Regions from separate parts of the Homo sapiens genome. Here region 2 is linked to region 1. A link means that fine-mapping ties the variant in region 1 to the expression of a gene that starts in the linked region. Tissue or cell type: whole blood. Region 1 holds a variant in brackets; the other region holds the start of a gene. All regions are shown on one strand. Distances are from middle to middle.

Region 1 (2,688 bases):
AAAGAATGAGATCACGTCTTTTGCAGGAACATGGATGGAGCTGGAGGTCATTATCCTTAGCAAACTAATGCAAGAACAGAAAACCAAATACTGCATGTTCTCACTTATAAGTGGGAGCTAAGTGATGAGAACTCATGGACACAAAGAAGGGAAGAACAGACACTGTGGCCTACTTGAGGGTGGCGGGTGGGAGGATGGAGAAGAGCATAAAAAATTACTGGGTACTAGGCTTAGTACCTGGGTGACAAAATAATCTGTACAACAAACACTCATGACACAAATTTACCTATATAGCAAACTGCACATGTACCCTTGAACCTAAAATAAAAGTAAAAAAAGAATTTTATATAAATTGAACCATGCAGTGTGTACGTTCATTTGTCTACTTCTTTCACTTGGCATACATTTTTATTTGAGATTATCTAAATTGCAGCATGTATCAATAGCTACTTCTTTTTGTTGCTGAGTAATCTTCCACTAAACTTGTTTATCCATTTACTCACGGTGGAGGTTTGGGTTGTTTCTTGATTTTGGATATAAAAATAAAGCTGCTATGAACATTCTTTTTTTTTTTTTGAGATAAGGTCTTGCTTTGTCGCACAGGCTGGAGTACAGTGGCATGATCATGACTCACAGCAGCCTTGAACTCCTGGGCTCAAAGGATCCTCCCACCTTGACCTCTTGAGTAGCTAGGACTGCAGGCACATGCCACCATGCTTGGCTGATTTTATTTTTCAAATTAAAAAAAAATTGTAGAGATGGAGTCTAGCCATATTGCCCAGAGTGGTGAACATTCTTGTAGAAGGGTTTGTGTGGAAATGTGCTTTGACTTCTCTTGGGTAAATACCTAGAAGTGTAATGATTAAGTCATATGATAAGTGCAGATTTGACTTTAAAAGTAACTGTCAAAACATTTTCCAAAATAGTGGTACCTTTTTAAATCCCAACTGACAGTACATAAGAGTTCCAGTTCTCCCACATTCTCATCAACAATTGATATGGTCAGTCTTTTAATTTGAACCGTCCCAGTAGGTTTGAATTGATATCTTATTGTGGTTTTAATTTGCATTGTCCTAATGACCAATGAGATTGGTCATTTTTCATGTGCTTATTTTCCGAGTATATACCTTTTTTGGTGACATAGCTCGTTCAAATACTTTCGCCATTTTTATTGTTTCTTTTTGTTTTATTATTTAGTTTTATGAGTTCTTTATATATTCTGGATATAAGTCTTTTATTTGGATGCAAGTGTTTTAGATGACTTGCAAATGTTTTTCCCCTAGCCTAGCGCTTGTCTTTTCATTCTCTTCACAGTGTCTTTCAAAAGCAGTTTTTATGTTCGATGAAGTCCAATTTATCAATATGTTATGGATTGTGCTTTTGGCATTGTAGCAAAGAAATATCTTACTCCTTAAAGTTTTTTACCTTTTTATTTGGAAACCATTAAAAATGTGCAGAAATGTTGCAAAAATAAGAATAGTGTAAGGTACACCTGTATAACCTTTACCTAGCCTCACTTCTTGCTATCATTTAATTCATTTGCTTCATCAGTTACTTCTCTCCCATCCATCTCTCTTTCATCTCCTCTTTTTCTGAACTACTTGAGAACTGTTTTTCTGAATTATTTTATTTATTTTTAGAAACAAGGTCTCCCTCTGTCATCCA[G/A]GGTGAAGTGCAGTTGCACGATCATGGCTCACTGCAGCCTGGAACTCCTGGGCTCGAGGGATCCTCCTGCCTCAGTGTCCAGAGTAGCTAGGACTAGAGCATTTTTCTGAACCCTTTTTCTGAACTATTTGAGGTAAATTGCATATATCATGTGTCTTTACCTGTAAATACTTCAGGTGTACACTTTGTAAGAATAACTTCTTTGTGGAAGTTATCAACTTCATAAGTTTACATTGATATACTAGTTTTTTCTAATCTACTGTCTGTATATTCATATCATACCTTTTATAGTTGGCCTAATAATGTCCTTTGTGGCATTTTTCCCTCCAGTACAGAATTTAGCCTGGGGTCAAGTATTACATTTAGTTGTCATGTTTTTTTAACCTCTTTTATTCTGAAACATTCCATAAAGTTTCTTCTTTTTCATGATGTTGATATTTTCAATGTCCCTTTTGGGGGGTTTATCTGATATTTCTTCGTGATTAGATACAAGCTGTGCTTTCTCAGGGTAGGTTATACGGTATTGATCTTCTCAAGGAATCACATCTGAAGACACATGCGGTGTATGTGCTCCTCATTCGTGATGCTAATTTTGATCGCCTGGTCAAATAATTGTCCAAATTCTCCATTGCATAAGTACTGTCTTTCCACTTGCAACTAATAAGCAGCCTGTGAGATTGCTTTAATTCCATCTAAACATCCTCTTCATCAACATTTCTACTTAGATTTAATATCTACTGATTTTTATTTTATCCAATCTTTATTTTGATGCTTACAAAATACTGACTTTTTAACTATAGCACTTCCTCCACACTTACTAGTCAGCATTCAGCATTTTACTATAAGCAAGCACTTCTCCACGGTTATTTATTTTTTATTGATATGAGCTTATGATTTTCTACATTTTTCTAAATGTATTTATAATTATTACTTTATTATTTTAATACTGAAATTGTCTGAGATTTGGCCAATGGGAGCTCCTCCAAACTGGTTCTTCTGTCCTTGTGACATGCCCCCACTATT
Region 2 (2,688 bases), 340 kb after region 1:
TGACATATGAATAATGTTCCCCCCTGAAAAACATAAGAAGCTTTTAACAATAAATATCTTTGTGAAGAGTAACTGAATTATTATTTTCGTGCCACTTGCAGATATTTGAGCTTTTAAAATTTTGTTACCCCCATGTTTGCTATTTTTTAAAAATTAACAATTCATTAAATCTTTTAAATAAAAACCAAATAGCATTTATTGAGGCTTTATAATGTGCAAGGGACTGTGCTAAGCACTTTACCTGTAATACCTCATTACATTTTCACGTTAACTTCTTATCTCCTTTTTACAAGTGAGGAGTTAGAGGCTCAGACAAGTGAAATCACTTGCTTGGGGACACAGAGCTAGAATGTGGCGGAGCTGCAATTTTAATGCACCTCTGTCTCATTTCAGAGCCTTAGCTCTCAACTGCCAGGCCGCACTCTTCTGCTTGCTCTTTATACCCTCATTGCTTAATGAGAGTACACTAGCAAACAACAGGAGTCTAATGAGATAATGTATGTGAAAATACTTTTCTAAGTATAGAGATGTTTGGGGAGGGCAAGCAAGGGTAGGGAATTTGTTTAAATTGGGCGGACCTGTCCACTGACCCCTAGACAGTCAGGATTTTTTTTTTTTTTTTTTACAAAACCAAGATCAACAACTTTCTTTTGTTCCTCCTTTAAAAATATTATAAAGTTATATTTACTTCCTTTTTCCCAATTATTGTTTATAAATTAAAATATGGAGAAATAAAAGCCATTTCATAATAGTCCTCACCCATAATTACTTTGTTTCAGATTTGAATGGCTATGTAACTATTACACACCTGCGTTTTACATAAACAGTAGCAACTAGACATTTGTTCAGTATCTTGCTTTTTCAGCCCTACAATATATCTTGGCCATCTTTTTATATAAACACTTACAAATCTGCTTTTCTCTTTTAAAGTAGCTGCATAATATCCTATTCTGTGAATACAGATAGGTAGGTAGGTAGGTTGGTAGATAGATAGATAGATGATAGATAATAGATATAGAGAGCTATGAAACTTTTAAAAATCACCTACTGAAGGACATTTAAGCTTCTTCCAATTGTTTGATTTCCTAATCAATGCTGTAATGAATACCCTTCCTAAGAAAGTTTAGAAGGATCTTTAGACTGAGTGTAATATTTGTCCACTGTAGTTGACGAGAGTGACCCCACAGGACGCTGTACTGAGGGGAGGAGTATGTTTCACTGCGTGGAGAAACAAAGAACTCTCTCCTAAGCATGACCAACACATTCAGAGATATTAGAATTGCCAACAGGTGGGATGACCTGAAAAAGAACTCCTTGCTTTGACAGTTTAGTAATAGAGCAAAGACTTGCCACGATTGCTCAACACTGGCTGGATCAGAAGAGGAATTTCCAGACTCAGTTACAAGCACGGCTGGTGGAGGGCTGTGAATCCCACCAGACAGTCTGGAGACAGCTAGGCAGGGAGATGAGCAGCAGAGCTCCAAATCAGGCAACAGCACGTGTGAAAGGAGCAGTGACCTGTGGGGAAACTCATAACTCACAGACCAAACCCCTTCCAGCAGAGGGCAGTGCCTCTGATACGACACAGGGCCCAGGCCAGCTGGAGCCAGAGCTGGGGACTTCGCTGGAGAGATGGCACCGGCCTGAGGTCAAGGAGAAATTGAACTAAACTCTCCTTTGAAGACTGTAAGTGACATTGGGGAATACTCAGGGAGGGACAGTGGGACCTCACACTACTATGATTCGCCTGTGTTCTAATGTCCAACAATTTAGGCTGAGTAATAAATCTCTTTATAGAGTTTGGCCATTTAGGGCTTGTAAGTAAGGGAATTTGGAGTCATTTTTGCTAGGCTGGCCACTGAGTCTCGCAGGTTTCTGGGTACATGCTTGAATTGAAAAGAAAGTGACACACCTAAAATACAGCCTAGACTCCTGGCCCTGGGGCTCTGTGGATCCGACACAAAGTTTACAAATAGAAAGCTAGCAAAGGGAAAGATAGTCGGAAGTAACAATTTTATCTAAAAATAGAAACTTAGAATCTAACACCAGAGTTACTACTTGCTTTTGAATTTCAAAGACTACATAGGATGGCCTTTAAAACAAAACTTCAGCATGTAAGAGCCAGCCAAGCAAATTGTTATACATAATCAACGATTAAAATAAATTAGTCTTTAGGCCTAAACCGTTTCCAATCAAATCTTTCTTGAATATTGGTTACCTTTTCTGCCGTGTAGTGGTTGGAATCAAATGAGAACATAGCTGAGCAGAGTACCATAAAGTCTACTTCTAATGCTGCTGTTTTCGAGCCTTGTGATTTTTTTTTAAGTGACTTTAGTATTCGCTGGTAAAGTCAAGGCGGATCTACCAGACGGTAAAAGTTCTGTGTGTTTGTCAGGCACGGCTAAGTAAAACGCACTGCATCTGAAAGTCTAAGGGTAGTTTGCATGCATCTCTCAGCAAAATAGCAAGTGGAAGAAATACCAGCAAGGAGAATAAACTTTCTGGGCTGTTTGATTTCCCCTGCAACTTCTAGTCCAGGGATGTTTGGCGTTCTCCCGGTCGCTAGATTATTAGCCCGCAGGTTCCGCACCGGCCAGGGAGCCGCTCAAGTCCTAGGGCCGGGCGGCTGGAGGTTGCAGGTCGGAGGGGCTTCTACGGGTTTGGGGGTGGGACGGTCCGCGGCAGCCG

Direction of the effects. Positions count from the first base shown, and alleles are read on the strand shown. Sizes are in standard deviations (SD) of each study's normalised expression.
For the expression in whole blood of the gene that starts at base 1,609 in region 2, G is the high allele of the variant in region 1 and A is the other (small effect, 0.24 SD a copy in GTEx).

The links. PIP is the estimated chance that this variant, and not a neighbour inherited with it, causes the effect.
Region 2: it holds the start of RAP2C, and the variant in region 1 is fine-mapped to the expression of RAP2C in whole blood (TOPMed, PIP above 0.99). The same link has a PIP of 0.9 or more in atrial appendage, breast, gastroesophageal junction, left ventricle, lung and pancreas.

Annotation. Positions count from the first base shown.
Region 1 is chrX:132,557,287-132,559,974 of GRCh38, reverse strand. No RefSeq gene overlaps it. Among named protein-coding and RNA genes, the nearest start is that of MBNL3, 70 kb to the right of the region's middle. The variant G/A (reference allele first, on the strand shown) is at 1,666.
Region 2 is chrX:132,218,368-132,221,055 of GRCh38, reverse strand. RAP2C (RAP2C, member of RAS oncogene family) reads left to right here and starts at 1,609. Exons shown (of 6, transcript NM_001271186.2): 1 at 1,609-1,686. RAP2C-AS1 (RAP2C antisense RNA 1) reads right to left here and starts at 2,549. Exons shown (of 3, transcript NR_110410.1): 1 at 2,219-2,549. RefSeq lists enhancers at 1,238-1,287, 1,618-1,687.